Homo sapiens: one gene and its partners. The protein of the gene in region 1 purifies or fractionates together with the protein of each later gene. This does not show direct contact. Each region holds a gene or a part of one and is shown in the gene's direction. Other genes may lie near its edges.

Region 1 (7,029 bases):
TCATGTATTTTTCTCACTAAGAAAAATGGTTGTTCCTTTTTCATAATCTTTCCAGAGTCATCTTAGTGGGATTTGGGGAAGCAACAGGGCTGTGTGGGGTAACCTGCCACCTTTAAGTGGAAATCAGGTAACAAAGTTTCATTCACTTTTTTTTTCTCATTTCTGTTTTCCCCAGTCTATGATTCAATTCATTTTTTATTGGCTGGATATAATCTGGATTTATATTATAATGAATTTTAGAATGAGACTCTTGTTTCAACCATAAGGATGTATGATAGGAAACTATTATAAGAAACCAGAACAAGAAAATTATTTAATAGATGTATTCTGATTTATTCTCTTATGTTTTTAAATTAAGATATTTTGGACCAAGAGTTTTCATTTATTTATCCATTCATCAAATACATGTTAAGTGCTTTCTTTATGACAGACCTAATAGTAGGCTTAAAGGATAGTATAATAGTGAACAAAACAGAGATAAGCGAGGCACTTGTCCTCTTAAAATATATTCAGGTAGGAGATACGAATCATAAGTAAACAATAGCTAAGCAAGATAATTAAATATGTCTCCAATTTTGCAGAAATGGAGCAAGAGCCACAAAATGGAGAACCTGCTGAAATTAAGATCATCAGAGAAGCATATAAGAAGGCCTTTTTATTTGTTAACAAAGGTCTGAATACAGATGAATTAGGTCAGAAGGAAGAAGCAAAGAACTACTATAAGCAAGGAATAGGACACCTGCTCAGAGGGATCAGCATTTCATCAAAAGAGTCTGAACACACAGGTCCTGGGTGGGAATCTGCTAGACAGATGCAACAGAAAATGAAAGAAACTCTACAGAATGTACGCACCAGGCTGGAAATTCTAGAGAAGGGTCTTGCCACTTCTCTGCAGAATGATCTTCAGGAGGTGCCCAAGTTATATCCAGAATTTCCACCTAAAGACATGTGTGAAAAATTACCAGAGCCTCAGTCTTTTAGTTCAGCTCCTCAGCATGCTGAAGTAAATGGAAACACCTCAACTCCAAGTGCAGGGGCAGTTGCTGCACCTGCTTCTCTGTCTTTACCATCACAAAGTTGTCCAGCAGAAGCTCCTCCTGCTTATACTCCTCAAGCTGCTGAAGGTCACTACACTGTATCCTATGGAACAGATTCTGGGGAGTTTTCATCAGTTGGAGAGGAGTTTTATAGGAATCATTCTCAGCCACCGCCTCTTGAGACCTTAGGGCTGGATGCAGATGAATTGATTTTGATACCAAATGGAGTACAGATTTTTTTTGTAAATCCTGCAGGGGAGGTTAGTGCACCTTCGTATCCTGGGTACCTTCGAATTGTGAGGTTTTTGGATAATTCTCTCGATACGGTTCTAAACCGTCCTCCCGGGTTTCTTCAGGTAAGCGAAAGAAAAATGAAAGCATAATTTGAAATACGTGTAGACTACATCATTTTTATTTGTTAATGTTTATGTGTCCAGTATAAGTGCAAAAAGATAACGACAAATTCTACTTTGTTTTTAAATATATTCCATGAAATTATGAGCCTTGAACATGTTTGTGTTTGTCTTTTTCTTTTTTTAAAAAAGATATATTAATAGTTTTATTTTGGTATTAAGTTTGTGATGATAAAACTTGAGAAGAGTGGTCATCCTTACATTTTTAATTCTTTATCTGAAGAAGAAATCTAATAAGTTTAATTTCGAAAGGGATTTATGTAATTCCTGTGGATGTATAGCTGTAAATATTCACAAATGTTGTCAAGACTCAGCTGAGGGTCTGAACTGGGAGAGACCGAGCCCATGGTCCAGAACAGTTGTTCTCAACCCAGGGTAGTTTTGCCTCCCCAGAGAACATTTGACAATGTCTGGAGGCATTTTTGGTTGTCATACTGGAAGTTGATTGCTACTGGCATAGTGGATAGAGGCCACGGATGCTGCCACACATTTTCACAGGACAGCCCTCATGAACAAAAAAAAATTATCCTGCCCAAAATCTCAACTATGCCAAGGTTGAGAGACCTTGGTTTAGAAGTCGAGACTGTGGTGATAATTTAAGATGTAATTCCAACAGTCCAAGCAGAGAAATTTACCAGAATGCACTTGGTCTAAGAGTAAAGAGTGCTACATAAAGATTGATGTCAGGGCATTGCTGTGGATTTAGTGAGGTACTCTGAAGAGAGTGGTCCAGTGACAGTCTCGTTTTAAAAGATTGGATGTAGGTATAGGAAGATGAGTTCTTGAAATGAGGACTCAGTATACGTTGAATATAACAAAGGAGTTTGCATTGAAGAAAGATCACTATTTAAGCAAAACAGATGTTTTGTCCACAGTCCAAATAATGTGGTTTAGTAATAGCACAGCTTATCTCTATTCATTTTCTCTTTTGGTATTCTCTCCTGTTGATTCTTATGTAGTTTTTATATGAAGTCAACTTGAAAGTTGTTTAAAGACAATTCGAGGCTTGCTAGGGATGTGTGAGGGAGATACTTTGAGGGCATTATTGAAAGGAAATATTTGATACTGGACAGAAAGAATATTGTGAATCCTGTAGATTATTTTAAGGAAGGAGCCTTAAGGTTACAAAGAGTAGGCTTATTGATTGGGGTTTGTAGTGGCGGGTGATAAAAGCTATAACAGTTTCTACTAATAGTGTTGCACTGTAATGATGGAATAAAAAATCTTTGGGTCCTTAGCAACTGGAGATGGGGTAGTGAATGGCAGAAATACTGTACCGTGGTTACATTCACTCATCCATTGAAATGACTTGTACTTTAATACAAATTTGTCCTTAGTGCATTTAATTTTGTTTTTAATCTTTCTCATGTGTATTTTTTGTCCTAAACGAAAAGTAAAATTGCACCCAAAATTTAATTTGAGTCTCTTTAAGAGGTTCTCATTTGCTTGTATTCAGGTATTTGTAGCAGAGTGTCCTTAAAAGGAGTTAACATATGTGTTTACTGAATGTTTTTATCCAAAAAAAAAAAAAAAATACAATAATAATCCAACTAAATACTAGAAGTTAGATATTTCCTGTGCTAAAAATCACTGTTAAAATCACTATTGGTCTAAATAGGAAATTAAGTTTTTTTGGTTTTAGGTAGATAGAATTCTGGAACTTCAAAAAAAGATTTTTCTTTTGGTTTTAGTTTTAATACCAAATACTTTTTAAACCTGTTAAATCTATAATTACAGAAATTGGACATGAGATTGCCCTCTGAAAATGAAACTGGGAAAAATCAGCCTATGGTGGATGACTCACTTATCTGTAATATCCTGTCCTAGGAAAGGTCTATAAAGTGTTGGTTTTTTTAAAGACAATTTGGTGATATTGCAGTTCAATTAAGGTGACCAGGATATAGATAATCTGAAAGAAACCATGGAATAGTTTAAAAAAAAGAAAAAAAAAAGAAAAACCTTTCCTAAGTTTTATTTTAGAATAACTTTTACAATTTTTTTGTCAACTCTATACCACTGCTATTACTTGCTTTATATTTTTACTAAATTGTCCCACTTGTCAGTTTTATCTTAATAATAACTGAAATTAAGGGAAATATGTATTTTTCTCATACATATTAAAATAAATAACTACTCAAATGTTAAAAGTTTGTGGGTAAGACTGTTTTGATGTTGAGCACAGTTATATTTTGGTTTCTCAAAGAATGTATTGCATTAGAAATAAATTAGGCAGCCAGGATGTGAGCTTATGTCTGTGTATGTACTGGCAAGCCGACCTCCGCAGATGACATTGCAGGAGAGCTTTTGTTATTTTGCTTTTAATTTCACAATAGATAGATAATCCATAAACATTAACTTAATCTATTCTGTTATGTCAGGTTCTCTTGGGTTTAGTACAAAAAATTATTCCATGTTGTGAGTGAGTGCTGAATTTCTTATTTATTCATTTATTTTTTCTTTGAGACAGAGTCTTGCTGTGTTGCCCAGGCTGGAGTGCAGTGGCACAATCTTGGCTCACTGCAACTTCCACCTCCCAGGTTCAGGTGATTCCCCTGCCTCAGCCTCCCAAGGAGCTGGAGCTAGGATTACAGGCATGCACTACCACCCCCAGCTAATTTTTGTAGTTTTAGTAGAGATGGGGGTTTCACCATGTTGTCCAGGCAGGTCTTGAACTCCTGACCTCAAATAATCCCCCCACCTCTCCTTGGCCTCCCAGAGTGTTGGGATTATAGGTGTGAGCCACTGTGCCCGGCCTGTGAGTGCTGGGTTTCTAATTAAAATACTTGTTCAGCTTCTCTGGTCCAGACTATATGTGTTAAAATCCAAGCTCCACTTTTTAGTTGTTGGTTCTGGGCGACTTAATTGACCTCTCTGTGCCTCAATTTTCTTGTACATAAAATGACAATAATAGTAACTGATTTCATAGGATTGTTAGGAGGATTAAATCAGTAAATACTATTATTTCAGTAAATATTTCAAGTAAATAATATCTGAAAATAGTTTATTTACCACAAAAGGAATATCTGATTTCAATAACGAAAACCTTAATTTACTTTGATTATTATTTATTTAAAGCTGGAGTCATTATTGGTTAACACTAGGCTAGTTAAGGCCATCAGCTTTAAGATTGTATAATTAGTGGAGCCATGGCACATTTAGCACAGTCCTTATTGCAGAAAGATCAGACTAGCAAATGATTAATTTTCTTGGGGATTTGTTGATGTTGATGTTTCTTAAAGCCTTTTAAAATATGTTTCCAACTTTGAAGTGTTTATTTTCTAGTATAACAATTTTATTAAAACATAAATGAAAATCTAGTTTCATTTATTTATATGTATATTTTTTTTCTTCTAATGAATCCTTTCAGGTTTGTGACTGGTTATATCCTCTAGTTCCTGATAGATCTCCGGTTCTGAAATGTACTGCGGGAGCCTACATGTTTCCTGATACAATGCTACAAGCAGCAGGATGCTTTGTGGGGGTCGTCCTGTCCTCTGAGTTACCAGAGGATGATAGAGAGCTCTTTGAGGATCTGTTAAGGCAAATGTCTGACCTTCGGCTCCAGGTAACTTGTGTGATCATCTTTAGGGTGAAAAAAATCTACTTTAACATAAGCACTTCAGCTTTTAGAGAAATTGTAATAACCTCTACTGTAATCAAGGTTAGGAGACTGACAGTTCACCATTTGTTTGTGTGTTCACAACTACATGCTTGGAATTTGCTGTAATAGTGGTTAAGATTGTGAGCTCTAGAGTCAAATTGCCTGTATATGAATTCAAACTCTTCCACTTAATGACCGTTTAGCTCAGCTGTTCCTGATCTTCTCTATACTTTAATTTACTTATAAAATGGGGATAATAACAGTGTCCACTTCATTGGGCTGTGGTGAAAATTAAAAATTAATACATTAAGCACTTATATCAGAACGAGTAGTTATGCTCTGTGAATGTTAGCTATTGTTTTCACCACTGTTTTATTGCTCAGCTGGAAAAGTGTACTAATGGGTCTAAATGGTGACATGAAGATAATTTTAGCTTTAGTAGATAGGTTATGTTGGACATTTTAAGGGGTATGGTTGGCATTCTGAGGAAGAAACAGGCTTTGGTTGAGATAATTATCTTTGTTCTTGTGGTAAATGAAGGCCAAATAAAAAAATAAAAAGAAAATATGATTTAAAATATGATCATCCTGGAACTTTCCTTATTTGGCATGTTTCCTCTGCCCACATGCGTACCTGTAGAAATAGAGTATTTCTGTTTAACAGGGAACTTGAATAGAGTATTATGGAGAGACTTTCTTTATATATTGTTGTAGCAAGAGGGAAAAAGTATTTTTGATTATGAATATTGACAGTCATCAGGGGTTGAATGAGGTGGGCATTATAATAGTATAATCTTTTATTCTCTCCTTCAATCAGCAGATACTTGGAATTCATTATTTAACCAGTTACTGTGTTAAGTGATGGGATGGGCAAAGTATGAGAACAGGAGACCACGAAGGTGTGGGGGATGTGTGTGTGTGTGTGTGTGTGTGTATGAAAATATAAAATCAGCCCCTGTTCACCCGAGAATGACCTACCTGGTGGTCAACAAACCAATACTTTAGCATAGCAGCAATTATTTAACAAAATACATGATCAGCATACAGAAGTGTGTAGCCTCATTGTACTTGTGAGGAGGAATTCACAAAGGCAGGAATATGGTCAAATGAAGGAGTTCATCTTCACTTCACTGTTTACTGAGTGAAATGATGCTCTTAAGTATTCACAGACCTAATGTGGAACTATTTCTCCCTTCACCCCTACGTTAACTGGACCTGTATTACTGGGCTTTAGGAAAGAAACTAAGCAGACTTTTAGGTTGTATGTTTATTTTCTGTCTTCAATTTAATTTTTTGGTATTTGTATGTTATTTTTAGCTTGCTTTACTGTCCCAGAACTTCAACTGTAAACATAAGCTAGTTACTAGCTATAATTTTGACTGGTTTTTACTCTTAAGCATTCATTCAGCAAAGTGTATATTGTGCAGAAAATTAAAAAATAAACCTTCCAATAATGCATAATGAAATGGACATGAGTTTTGTTAATTGCCTTTAAATTCACTTTCTCTTGTACATGTTAACTAAAATTTATTCATTAATTAAATTTAAATGTAGCTGCATCTGATTCAAAGATAACTTATACCAACAACTGCTATAAGTTGTCTTTTACACGTTGTCTTTTGAAACTTACTTAGGCATATGCTATGAACCAAAGAACTCAGAGGTTTGGGGTTTGGTGATGAAACAAAAGAGAATCGTAGAGAAAAAAGCAAAAGTAGTTGTTACTGATAGACTGCCAAACTGACATTCAAACAAGTATGTCATTTGAGCATGGTGTAATATAGCTGGCAGAAAGCCATCTAAGAAAAATTCTGATTAGAGTTAAGCTTAAACCTTTATTCTCTAGGCCAACTGGAACAGAGCAGAAGAAGAAAATGAATTCCAAATCCCTGGAAGAACTAGACCCTCCTCTGACCAACTAAAAGAAGCCTCTGGCACTGATGTGAAACAGTTGGACCAAGGCAATAAGGATGTACGTC
Region 2 (7,029 bases), on another chromosome or scaffold:
GTTGTGAAGTGTTCCTTTAAGAGAAACCAGAGGCTTCTCGCCTGGGGCTTGCTGTGGGCCTGGCCTGGATCCACATTCTTGTGCATTGCTGACTACTTTCTTGGGAAAAACTGGAACCAGTTTTGCTTGGTGTGTTGGATAGGGAATGGCAGCATTGGGTGAAAACCTTTCCAGCTCTGTTATCAAAAGCCAGGCCTGGCCTGAAAGAGGGAGGACTATGTTTGAAGTTTGATTGATTTAACAGAGGCAGAGGTTGCTTCATTACACACAGGATGCCTTTTGTATCAGGATATGAATGAGAGATTAGAAAGGTGACGAGATGCCCTGCTTTGCTTGTGACAGTGCCAGTTTACTCCTGTTGGTTTATCTTAATTATCAAAAGCACCCCCTTTCACATGTAAAAGTGTCCTGGTTTGGGTGATAATTATCTGGTCACCCTAGATATTAAGGAATCCTGAATTTTTTTCATCACCCCTCTTCCGACACCAGATTTTGAGTCTTGCCTTATTTCAGTCTTTTATTTATTAAATGCAAAGCTAGAAAATCAGAAAAATTTAAACCTGAAAAATATATAAGAAAAAATGAAATAGGAGGAAGGAAGATAGGAGAATGAGATAATTGCTTGTCATCTATTTACACACATAGTGAATAAAATAGTTTTATTCTTAAGTTACTAAGCATCTGCCGTGGCTGTAAGCCCATATTATTATTGTCTTCAAGCACAATATGAATTAACACCTGTCCATATATCTAGAGCTGACACTAATTGGGACAAATCCTTTGATTTGGGAGAGCAGTTTCTACAAAACCTGTTTGCAGACCTAGTGGTTACCATGGCTCTTAGAGGTAGGAATGCAAGTTTCAAGATCTAGTGTCTGGTCCAGATCTTGGATATTTACTGAGATTCCAGAACACAAGTGTTGTTGTGAAGACTTGATTCCACATTCTCTTAGTTTCCAAGCTCTCAGGGCCATGAGGATAATAGGAGGGCTTTTGTTTTCTGTACTCCCTTGTGTCTCCAGTGTTTGGTTTGGGTCTCAGCTTTTCATACAGAGGGGTCGCAGAGAGGGAGAACTGTTGTGTCTGTTCACCACATGAAAATTCTCTTGGGGGTTTGAGATTGTGCAGGTGACCTGGCAAGGGTTTGGATTCTTTACCCAACTTAGATATATGAAGTTTGTGGCATTTGCTTCTGCAGTAGTTGCTATGCTCCTTTACCAAAGAATTGTGTGTTTGTAACACAGCTCACTTACTATGTTGGCCAGTGGATGTTATAATTAATTATGGCTGTCACCTTTCCCAAACTCACTCCACTGAAGTCCTCAAAAGCTTGGTCAGCATGTCTAAATAAGAAGAAATTTATTTATTTATTTATTTTTTGAGACAGGGTCTCACTCCGTTGCCCAGACTGGAGTGCAGTGGTGCAATCTTGGCTCACCGCATCCTCCGCCTCCTGGGTTTAAGCGATTCTCATGCCTCCGTCTCCCAAGTAGCTGGGATTACAGGCACGCACCACTACCATCAGCAAATTTTTGTGTTTTTAGTAGAGACAGGATTTCACCATGTTGGCCAGGCTGGTCTTGAACTCCTGACAAATGATCCACCCTCCTCGGCCTCCCAAAGTGTTGGGATTACAGGTGTGAGCCACCGTGACCGGCCTATGTATCTTTTTTATAAGTAGGATGACTATGTAATTTAAAAAAATCCAGACAAGGACACTTTTGAGAGTAAAATATGGTACTAACTGGAAGGGGCATTAGATCAACAAGTATAAACTGAGACTGTGCCAGGAAAACTAGGATTTATGGCTGTTCTAACTATGACTCAAGTGATAAGCTTGTATATGTATTATATCCATATGATGAGAAATGTCCTTAGCTTCTTCTAGTCTTGTTCAACGTATATGTGTGTGTGTGTGTATGCAATGTATGTATAGATAAACATTGATAATGTATCTATGGATATGTGAATTGTAGGTTTGAAATAAACCACTTAAGAAGTCCTGGTAATTGGAAATTTATGCCCTTCCTTATCTCTTTCATTGGTTGACTTTTTAACTAAACTCTTTGGATCTAGCCTCTCCAAACTTTAAATCATCTCCTGACCTTGTCTATTTTAATACCATTCTATTGATATAATTCTTTTGCTTAAAAACCTCTGATGGCTTATCATTTTCTTTTTAATTCTCAAAGTAAGATCCATAGGCAGTTTGGTGGTTAGAAGGGAAAAGCAATGAAAAAATTTAATTCATTCATCCATTCATTTATTTGTTCATTCAAGTAATATGTATTGAGCTCCATCTGCGGGTTAGTATCTGATCTAGGTGCTGGGAATATATCAATGAATAAAACAAAGATCTCTGACCTTGTAGAGTTTTCATTCTGTTGGGGGCAGGCAGGTGGGAGGTGGGAGACAGATAATAAACCAAATAACTAAATTATATATGATGCTAGAAGGAGATGAGTGCTTTGGAAGAAAGAGAAAGTAGGACAGGGTAAGTGTGGTTGAGTAGGCTTCATGGAGAAAGAGACCTTAAGCAAAGAGTTAACGGAAGGTAAGAGAAGTTGCTTAATACAAATACCTGAGGGATAGAGTTGCAGGATGGCCAGTGCAAAGGCCCTGAGAAAAGAATGTGTTTGGATATGTTCAAAGATTTGCAAGATCAGCATGATGGGGTGGAATGACAAGGGGGAAGTCAGAAATGAGACCAGAAGGGTGGTGTGGGTGTTGCAAAGCCTGTAGGGCCTTGAGATAGGCCATTTAATTATGATTTCAGCAGACATCCCCTTATGTTCTTAAAACTTATTATAATATTTAAGATTGTATTTGTGCTGCAAAGACTGCACTGGTGAGTGCGTATAGCTTACATTTTGTTAATGGTCCACTTCATGTTTGTTAATATAATTTTTATATCATTTACTTATTTTTTATTTGTTAAAAGAATATTTTTTGTTTTTGCTGTTCTTAAATTGTATTCCCATTTCACAAAACTAGATAAGTGGTTCAAAAGTAGTTCATTGAAGTGTAAAAATAGTGATGAAAATAGTACTGTAAATGCTACATTTCAGAATACCATAAACATACTTAGAGAACTGAATCCCACTGCATATAAAATGGGAATATGTATGTATAGAGACAAGGGAATCTCTGAGAGTGACAATTTCAGAACAGTAGCTGAAATTGAAAAGTGCAAATGGAAATATGACAATGACTATCTCAAAACTATTTTTTATTGGACTTGCTATCCCCATTAGGACCAAATGAATCCGTAATCGTTGCCTGTTATGAAACTTTGTCCAATAGTGGCATGAAGCCATGGATGTTTTTGTGTCATTTTCGAACAAAGCACAGTGGCTTCTCTGTTATACTATTGAAGTTTTCTAGGACAGGCACACAATAATGCTTTCCTTTATAAAATTAATGTATTATATGGCTAAAGGTAGGTAAGAGATTATAATTCTATTAGCATCATTAAAGGATCCTTGTAGCAAAATAAGTATGAGTCATATTATTGAAGAGACACTTGGAAAATCAGCTGGAAAGTTAAAGACAAACATTATCCTTAGAGAGAAACCAGAAGTTATTGACAAAACTCCTTTGTCAAATAACATGGTTGGCTGTGGCATAATATCAGTGGAGTGGAGTGTGGAAGAGCGATTACTATCAAGTGCACGCTAGCAGATATTTCACTTTATGGTTGGATGAAACCACCGATGTCATGCAGAGAATGAATCAGCTTTTGGCATTTGTTCAGAAATGAGTGCTCGGTGATGCTTTTGTTCATTTGTCACTGAAAACTTGTGCTATAGGAAGAGTTTTTTTTTGTTTTTTTTTTTTTGGTTAACCATTATTCATGAGAGTGGAAAAGTTGCTCGGGACAGAACTGACAGGGTACTGGGCTCAGGTACAGATAAGGTGATGGCTTCATGAAGAAAAGGAGTTGTACTTAGAAAGAAGCCAATCCACATGCTACCCACTTCATGGAGAAGACGTAATACCCTCTGATCTTGAGGAAATACAAAAAGAAACAGTGGAAACTATGGATTCAACCAAACTGTGGCCCCTGTGTCTGTGAGTTTGCTGTGCAAAGTGATGGGCAGTGAGTGTAAGACTGCTTCCCCAAGCTGACATATGCTAGCTGCATAGTGGAAAGGTGCTCGTGTAATATTTTATCTGTGGAGTAAGATATCTTTGGAGCAAGAAAAACATTTCCTTATGACAGTGATTAGAAATGATTTGTGTTATATCAAGTGGTATACCTAAGTCATATGCTTAGCCCGTGGTGAACTGTGGCAAGGACAGAGAGGGAAGGGAGAATTATTAACAAATAAAACAATATGCCACAATCTTAGACTATGAAATTTTTTATTAGGGAGTTGGAAGTTCACATTGACTGTAAATTAAGGAAGTGATATTTTCAGTAATAGACAGCCATTTATATCATAAGCATAGTATCTCTCAGTGACCTGCTAGAAGAATAAGAGCTCAAAGTAATAGAACTTAGACCCAGTAAGTTTTGATGGGGAGTAGACACGAGTGTATATTTGGTATTTGAGAGCATGTAGAGAACCATGGCAGGAGGGACCCAGACTTTTAGGATTTTGCATGAAGATATTGGGTGGCAGGGAGTACAGGCTGAAGGAGGTAGAGAAAACTGTCAGATTTCTCTGACAGTTGGATATGATCTTTCTTAAGTTTTTGCCTTAGGCTTCACTTCATTTTATCCAAATGGACTTCATACTCTAAGGTTTTCAGGACATAATCTTTATTGCCATTGGCATAATCTAGAAAAAATGAATGATTTCTTCTGGTCTTATAGTGGTATTGGATACCCTCCGTATAGGCCCCCACCCCTTCCTCCCTCCATTTTTTCCTCTCTTCTCTTTCTCCTTCTCCTCCTTTGTTCTCTCCTTCTTTAAGCCATTGAGTTGGCATCTCTAAGCTACACGAGCTAGAAGAGCTCATCTTCTGTATCACTGTTATCTAGGCAGATATATGTGCTATTCAGGGAACAAGGGAAAGGAGCCCCTAGGGAAGGGAAGTTCTGTACCTTGCTCAACTAACTCATCCTAATGTCCGATATCCAGCTATAGCATGCATTTAAATGTAAACCCCATTCTTTAATAAAGACTCATTTCCTTTTTCCCCTCTTTGGACTTTTAATAAAGATGGAATCATTGTCTTTTGTTTAATAAGTCATCCATTGTGATGGCCCTTATTTAATACTAGGACAAAAGTCATTCATGCATTATTCATTGAACCTTATATGCCAGGCTCTATGCTAAGTAATGGGTATAAAAGAGGTTAATAATCAGACATGGCTCTGTCCAGATAAGACAGAATCTAATGGAAAACAGGCCACACATATATGAATAAATAAATAAGTATATAATTGCAAAACAAGGCAAAAATATTAATGTTTGTTAAATCTGGGCGTTGGTATGTATGGTATACCTCAGTAATATACTTAGGCCACAGTGAATCATGGCAAAGACAAACAAGGAAGGGAAAATTATTAGCAAGTAAAACCATATGCCACAATCTTAGACTATGAATTTTTTTTATTAGAGAGTTAGATGTCCACATTGACCATAAATTAAGGAAGTAATATTTGGTATATGGGCTACTGTTATATTAACTTCTTAACAATATGAACTTCTAAATGTATATTTTAAATATTTCATAAGCAACAAATGAAAAAACCTAGTTGGAAGTACATTAAGTGCTTTGTCGAGGTGGGCTTTGGCAGAGAATGTTGTGTAACTGAGACTTCCTTTAGATGGAGTGCTCAGGGAAAACCTGAAGTGTAATTCATCACTTGCCTATATAAGAAGGATGAGGATAATTTGGAAAGGGTTCAGGGAAGAGTAACAAAGATGATTGATGACAGAGTTGAAAATAGCCCTATGAGAACAGTCTTAGAGAACTGGGGATGCTAAGCAGCAATGGAATGCTTAACCTAATGCAGTGATTTAGGTTTTTTTTTTTTTAATTTATAGGGAGTTTTACACATCCACATTCTCTTCACTTGTCTGCCATGGTCAACAGCAGGCAAGACAAGTGATTCAATTTAGAATTATGGGTTGGAGAAGAATCAGAATTTTGTTCTGCACTTGAGGAAAAATTGGAAAGGATCTGAGAGGTAAACTAGTTTAGCCTTTCTGTAAAGAAATATCTCTTCAGTGTTTTTAACAGGTGGTCATCAGGTTTTTAGGAGATAGTTTCCATGCTTCCTCCACTAAAAATAGGGTGATGGTGAGTGGGACACTCTAGTTTACTTTAATTAGACAGGTCTTCTTCCTGTCCCATAAATACCCTAGACTCATCTCCACCTCAGTACTTTTACCACAGGAAGCAACTCCCACCTGGAATGCCCACCACTTCTACTTACTCTTTCAGGCCCCAGGTCTCCATTGCCCTTCTGTATGCAATTTAAAAACAGTGGTTTTTGTCATTTTTCCCACCTCATCCTTCTGAAGAATATGCCATTCCTGGAATTCAGTGTAGTTTCCCTTGTCAGTGATTGACAGTAAGAGTAAGGGTGGAGTAAGTATCTTATAGGAGGAGTTGGGAGACAGTGTGTTTAGCCTTCCACCCAGATGCTGATATGCTACCCTCTTGGGAATCACTCGTTTGTAGCAATTAAAATCTTAATCATCTGCTGTTTTAGGTGGTACACTAGTTATTGTTTTCCATTAGTCTTCTTGCCACCTAGATTTTAAGCACTCTAAATATATGGAAACTTGGCAGATGCCCCTGTGTAATGCCCAGTATTGATCACATAGTGAATATTCAATAACCAATGCCTAATGGCTAAAGGAACCATCTATTTCTTCTTCATGGACCATTATGAAGGGTTGTTATTTATATAGATCAGATATTAATTGACACAGGATACTAAAAGATTAACATTTTGGACTTTTAAAATGTCAGAAAGTCAAGTCTTGGAGGCCTAGTTCATTCAGATAACTCTCATCTCAGAACTTTCTTCCTTCGTAAGTCTTCTAACTCCTTGCTATTCAAAGTGTG
Region 3 (7,029 bases), on another chromosome or scaffold:
CCTTCTCATAACATCCTATCATGGGGTGTATAATAGCCACATGATGTCATGGTTGATATTAACCTTCATCACTTGGTTAGTGTTTGCTAGGCTTCTCCACTGTGAAGTTAGTGTTTTTCCCTTTGGAAGTAAGTCAGTAAATCTAACTACCCTCAGATGAGAGAGAGCAGGAATTAACTTCCTCCTCCAGGGGATACTAAAATATACATAACATAAAATTTACATTTTAACCATTTTTAAGTGTACAGTTCATATTGTTTTATAACCATCACCACCACCCATCTCTAGAACTGTTTCATTGTCTCCACTGAAACCCTGCACTCATAAAACACTAAGTGTAAAGGGAATTCTTACATTAAATTGTTTGGCATAGCATCTGGCAATGCAGAAGGCACACAATAAGTGTGAACTATTCATAAGTCGTTTTCAGTGAGACACTTTTAGAAAGATTTTTTTCCTTCCTTTGTAGGTAATTAATCAACCTCCAAAAGAGATTCAGTAAAAATAAAAGTGATCATTTAACCTTTCCCTCTTGTAATGGTCTTTTATAAAAATTCAGTTGGGGGGCCAGGCACGGTGGCTCATTCCTGTAATCCCAGCTCTTTGGGAGGCCAAGGCAGGGGGATCACCTGAGGTCAGGAGTTTGAGACCAGCCTGGCCAACATGGTGAAACCCCATCACTACTAAAAATGGTGGCGGGCACCTGTAATCCCAGCTACTCTGGAGGCTGAGGCTGGAGAATCACTTGAACCTGGGAGGCAGAGGCTGCAGTGAGCCAAGATCCCGCCACTGCACTCCAGCCTGGGCATCAGAGTGAGACTCTGTCTAAAACAACAAAAAAAAAAACAAACAAAAAAATTCAGTTGGGAAGGGGAATAAAAATTACTGGCTAAAATGGGATTTTAGGTCAGGCATAGTGGCTCATGCCTGTAATCCCAGCACATTGGGAAGCTGAGGCCAGAGGATTGCTTGAGCCCAGGAGTTCAAGACCAGCCTGGACAACATAGCAAAATCACGTCTCTACAAAGAAAATGTAAAAATTAGCTGGGCATGGTGGCACGAGTGTGTAGTCCCAGCTACTTGGGAGGCTGAGGTAGGAGGATAGCATGAGCCTGGGAGGTCAAAGCTGCAGTGAGCCACGATCATGCCACTGTACTCCAGCCTGGGCAATAGAATGGGACCCCCATCTCAAAAACAAAATAAAATGGGATTTTAGCTTATGTTTGGAAAGGGAAGTAAACGTTTTTGGCTAAAATGGTATTTTAATTATTCTTTTTTTTTCTGAGACAGAGTCTTGCCCTGTCACACAGGCTGGAGTGCAATGGTGTGATCTCGGCTCAATGCAACCTCCATCTCCTGGCTTCAATCTATTCTCCTGCCTCAGCCTCCCCAGCCGCTGGGATTACAGGTGCCTGCCATCACGCTCAGCTAATTTTTGTATTTTTATTAGAGACAGGGTTTCACCATGTTGGCCAGGCTGGTCTTGAACTCCTGACCTCGTGATCCGCCCGCCCAAAATGCTGGGATTACAGGCGTGAGCCACTGCAGCCGGCCTCTTATTCTTTATGATATGTTTATCACCATGTTTTATAAATAATTGGTTATAATTCCATATTCTTATGTCCGTAAACCTTTCTGAATTTTTCTAACATGTAAATGACTTTTTTCTAGAAGTTAGGAAGTCATACAGAATAATGTATTCTGGTTGGGTGCAGTAGCTCATGCCTATAATCCCAACACTTTGGGAGGCCAGGATCGCTTGTGGCCAGGAATTTGAGACTAGCCTGGGTAACATAGTGAGACTCTGATTCTACAAAAAAATAAAAAATTAGCTGGTGTACTGGCACGCACTTGTAATCTTAGCTACTCAGGAGGCTGAGGCAAGAGGATTGCTTGAACCCAGAAGTTGAAGGCTGCAGTGAGCTACAGCTGTGCCAGCGCACTCCAGCATGGACAACAGAGAGAGACCCTGTCTCATAAATAAATAAATAACATATTGTATATGTTATAGGGTAGAACTGTTACCATTAAGTTGAAGAATGTGAATTTTGAAGTAAAAACTCGTGCATCTACAGTTTCATCTGTTGTTTCTACTGCAGAAGAAATATTTGCCATTGCTAAGGAATTGCTAAAAACAGAAATTGATGCTGATTTTCCACATCCCTTGAGATTAAGGCTTATGGGTATGACTTTTTCATTTTTTTGTTTTTCCTTAAATCTGCTAGATTTTCCCAAATAATCAACTTTGGGAATACAGGGGGCCCCCAACTTAACAATGGTTCAACTTAATGATTTTTCAACTTTGCGACAGTGGGAAAGCTGTATGCTTTCAGTACACTCTTGACTTACAAGGTGGTTACATCCCGATAAACCCATCATAAATTGAAAGTATTGTAAATTGACTTATTATGTTTTCAATTTACAGCGGGTTTATCTGGATACAATCCTACTGTAACTCAATGAGCACCTGTATTCTCGCCTTCATTTTATTTCTTAAACCTGTTTACGAAGTTCTTCCTTTGCTGCTGCCATTTGTCTTAGTTATTAGACCCTGATGTGTGAAGCCATGATCATTAGTTTAATTCCAGTAAGGGTCAATTAAAGTTGTTATTTTCCTTATAACTTAATGAAATTCTTGTGGCCAGGTGTGTTTCAAAATTCAAAACTTTTCAGATTTTAGAAAGCAAATTCAGTGCATGTAGAGTATATTACGTTGTAATACTTCTTTGTGGATCTGGGGCAACACCCCCTGTTCAAACACATTAATATTTCTGTAGCAAAACAAAATATTCAGAGACTGTAAAGACTGATGACATTAATTTAGTCATCAGGTATCACTTGTTGCTTACAATTTTCAGAACTTTTTGGATTTTGGAATTACAGATAAAGGATTGTGACATTGTGAAATCACATCTCCAGCCACTACATGGTAAAAAGTAACAAGCCATGTTTCCAAAGTGTACTGGTTGAAAGTATATATGTGGATCACCACTCCAAATGCACATTTTACTAGTAAGGAGTGGGTCACTAGCCATAATTTTATTTATGAAAGATATAGCACACACTGAAATCAACTGAATAAAGTGTTAATTGAAAGAGCCAGGCTGGGCGCGGTGGCTCACGCCTGTAATCTCAACACTTTGGGAGGCCAAGGCAGGTGGATTGCCTGAGGTCAGGAGTTCAAGACCAGCCTGGCCAACATAGTGAAACTGCATCTCTACAAAAACTACAAAAAATTAGCTGGACATGGTGGCGGGCACCTGTAATCCCAGCTACTTGAGAGGCTGAGGCAGGAGAATCGCTTGAACCCGGGAAGTTGCAGTGAGCTGAGATCACGCTGTTGCACTCCAGCCTGGGCAACAAGAGTGAAACTCCACCTCAGAAAAAAAAAAAAAAAAAAAAAAAAAGCCCAAGAGCAGATATCTATAGAAGCTTAATTCATAATTGCCAAAACTTTGAAGCAAGCACGATGTCCTTCGGTACGTGAATGGATAAATAAACTGTGGTACATACAGACAGTGGAATAATATTCAGCACAGAAAATAAATGAATTATCAATTCATGAAAAGACACGAATGAAACTTAACTGCATAATGTTAAGTAAAAGAAGCCAGTCTGAAAAAGCTAAATACTGTGTGATTCCAACCATATGAGATTCTGGAAAAGGCAAATATGAGTACCATAAAAAATAATTGATTGTCAGGAGTTAAGAGGGGCAGGAGGTATAAATAGGCAAAACACAGGAATTTTAGGGCAATGAAATGATTCCGTATGATTCTATAATGACACGTCATTATAAATTTGTCCAGCGCCCAGGATGTATTCCAAGGGTGAACCCTATGTAAGCTATGGACTTTGAGTGACAATGTTGTGGCAGTGTAGGTTTATAGATTGTAACAAATGTACCACTCTAGTGCCACATGTTGATAGTTGGGGTGGTGGAGGGGTGTGCATGTGTAGGGAAAGGGGATCTTTGGGAACTCATTGTACCTTCTGCTCAATTTTGCTGTGAACCTAAAATTCCTCTAAAAAATAAAGTCTATTAGAAAAAAAAGAGCTAAAGAGTCTGTATAGTTGACTCCAGTTAGTTACTGGTATTAATTTAATGGTATTATGTGTCACATATGAATTAAAATCCTACATCATTATACTAACTCCAAATAGTTAATATTTAATGATATTCTTTTATAAAGGAAGGTAAATCTGTACTTATAATACCAGCTTTGAAATGTTACTTATAGTTTCTCTCTAGCCAACCTTTTGTATATGTCATAGCACTAGACAAAATGTTTTTATGCATTGTGAGTGAATTGGCTTTGTTCAATTTGAAATTGATTGTGATTGGTTTAATTTAGGTGTTCGGATATCTAGTTTTCCCAATGAAGAGGACAGGAAACACCAACAAAGGAGCATTATTGGCTTTTTACAGGCTGGAAACCAAGCCCTGTCAGCCACTGAGTGTACATTAGAGAAAACTGACAAAGATAAGTTTGTAAAACCTCTAGAAATGTCTCATAAGAAGAGTTTCTTTGATAAAAAACGATCAGAAAGGAAATGGAGTCACCAAGATACATTTAAATGTGAAGCCGTGAATAAACAAAGTTTCCAGACATCACAACCATTCCAAGTTTTAAAGAAGAAGATGAATGAGAATTTGGAAATATCAGAGAATTCAGATGACTGTCAGATACTTACCTGTCCTGTTTGCTTTAGGGCTCAAGGGTGCATCAGTCTGGAAGCCTTGAATAAACATGTAGATGAATGTCTTGATGGACCTTCAATCAGTGAAAACTTTAAAATGTTCTCGTGTTCACATGTTTCTGCTACCAAAGTTAACAAGAAAGAAAATGTTCCTGCTTCTTCACTTTGTGAGAAGCAAGATTATGAAGCCCATCCAAAAATTAAAGAAATATCTTCAGTAGATTGTATAGCTTTAGTAGATACTATAGATAACTCATCTAAAGCAGAAAGCATAGATGCTTTAAGTAATAAGCATAGCAAGGAAGAATGTTCTAGTCTCCCAAGCAAGTCTTTTAATATTGAACACTGTCATCAGAATTCTTCTTCTACTGTTTCATTGGAAAACGAAGATGTTGGATCATTTAGACAAGAATACCGCCAGCCTTACTTATGTGAAGTGAAAACAGGCCAAGCTCTAGTTTGTCCTGTTTGTAACGTAGAACAAAAGACTTCAGATCTAACCCTGTTCAATGTGCATGTGGATGTTTGCTTAAATAAAAGTTTTATCCAAGAATTAAGAAAGGATAAATTTAACCCAGTTAATCAACCCAAAGAAAGCTCCAGAAGTACTGGTAAGTGTGTAATTGTTTTAAACTGCATGATTTTCTAGGAATATGTATTATTAAAATTAATGAGATTGTTGTTAAATCTGAAACATATACTATTAAATGGGTAGTTTGTGTATGCCGCCATTTAGGGAAATGTTGGTTACATTGCCATAGGTTAGAATTAACTCAAGCCTGTAGATTGTGAATTTGGGGAAAACTTTGGTTTGATCTTGATTTAGCACAGAATGAACTCAAAGGTTTAAGGAGCTGAGTGATCTAATCAAACAAATTCCTTCAGAGAACATCTGTGAAGGCACAGTGGTAAATTAACTATAACTGCATAACTAGAAAGCCTCTTTAACTTATTTTTTGGTAGTGCTGACTCTACCCAAATTTCACCAATAAAATTAAGTGTAATGCTAATAAAATTAGTAAATTACAAAGAAATTATAGTTTTTGGTGTGTTTACATATGAACTATATAGTACTAAGGAAGTTTAATCAATAAGTTTTAACTTTTTAAATTTGTATACAACTTTTTAATTATTTCATATTATTCATTATGGAATTTCTTGACTTTCTTTCCTCTAAAGGTAGCTCAAGTGGAGTACAGAAGGCTGTAACAAGAACAAAAAGGTATGGCTAATTTGAGCTTTAATAAAGCTGGCTACAATATGAAAATTCAATTATTTTATAAATTATTAAGTAATCAATATTAAAAATGAATTATTTTCTAGAATCTCTTCCTGCATTTTAATTGTGTGTTCCTTTTCATTCTAGGCCAGGATTGATGACAAAGTACTCAACATCAAAGAAAATAAAACCAAACAATCCCAAACATACCCTTGATATATTTTTTAAGTAAACATTGAACATTTTATCATTAATTTTTAATTGAAACTAGTTATTTTATAATCAATGAATTTGTTCTTTCTGATTTTAAGTTTGCAGATTTATTTAGTGAAGGCAAGTGCAATAATCCTTCCTCAGATGATGTTTGCTTTTCTAAGATACATATACTGATTCTGTGTATCTTTTTTATAACCATGAGAATTTTACTTCCATTATACATCAATTGGAAATCAATCCTGTTAAGAGATAATTCTTAAAAGGGAAATTAGGAATGGGATAAGAAGGTGATTTTTTTATTATTTTTATACTGAATATAAAAACATTTGTAAGGGCTCTCAAAGATTCACACATGCCTATATTATCATAAGAATTTTTCAGCACTTAACTACTTTGTTGGCATTGATCCTAGTGTCTTTAAATACTTCATGAGCATTCATAATTAAAATTTATCTTAAGTTCTATGAAGAGTATTAATGTAACTAGCATAAGTGGTTTTCTTCAGGAAAATAAATATCACAGTATTATCTGTGTTAAAATGGTTTTTGCCTAAAATATAATTTTTAATTTGGCTTTTCTTATTTAAAATTCCATTATCTTATGAATAAGCACTTGAATCAGTTTTTAAAATATTTAGTCTAAGATGATTCAAAGTAGTTTTATTTTAATACAGGACTTTTAAATGGCAGTATTTCATTTCTTGTCAATTATGTTGGTACTTTCCACAAATCTATAAAGAAGGATAAATTGTACCATCATTTTATTATAATCCTCAAGAGAAAATGTGTAATTCAAAAGATTAATGTGTATTAAAACACATTATGTATCTTAGTTACATTTCTATCAGTACTTTTATTAATATTTGTGAAAGAAGACAGCTTAATAGTAGTTAG

The links. Proteins that work in one complex are often made in the same cells at the same time.
Region 2: the proteins of SPART (region 1) and HECW2 purify together in Homo sapiens (affinity purification with mass spectrometry; 2 studies listed by BioGRID and IntAct, with this or other methods). This does not show direct contact.
Region 3: the proteins of SPART (region 1) and POLK purify together in Homo sapiens (affinity purification with mass spectrometry; 2 studies listed by BioGRID and IntAct, with this or other methods). This does not show direct contact.

Annotation. Positions count from the first base shown.
Region 1 is NC_000013.11:36,329,385-36,336,413, reverse strand, and holds part of SPART (spartin), read left to right. Parts: intron 1-55; exon of another isoform or gene 56-127; intron 128-581; 5' UTR 582-583; coding exon 584-1,393; intron 1,394-4,817; coding exon 4,818-5,015; intron 5,016-6,896; coding exon 6,897-7,029. UniProt on the Homo sapiens protein: Lipophagy receptor that plays an important role in lipid droplet (LD) turnover in motor neurons.
Region 2 is NC_000002.12:196,583,550-196,590,578, reverse strand, and holds part of HECW2 (E3 ubiquitin-protein ligase HECW2), read left to right. Parts: intron 1-7,029. UniProt on the Homo sapiens protein: E3 ubiquitin-protein ligase that mediates ubiquitination of TP73. Acts to stabilize TP73 and enhance activation of transcription by TP73. Involved in the regulation of mitotic metaphase/anaphase transition.
Region 3 is NC_000005.10:75,591,867-75,598,895, forward strand, and holds part of POLK (DNA polymerase kappa), read left to right. Parts: intron 1-2,011; coding exon 2,012-2,183; intron 2,184-4,355; coding exon 4,356-5,312; intron 5,313-5,880; coding exon 5,881-5,923; intron 5,924-6,067; coding exon 6,068-6,152; 3' UTR 6,153-7,029. UniProt on the Homo sapiens protein: DNA polymerase specifically involved in DNA repair. Plays an important role in translesion synthesis, where the normal high-fidelity DNA polymerases cannot proceed and DNA synthesis stalls.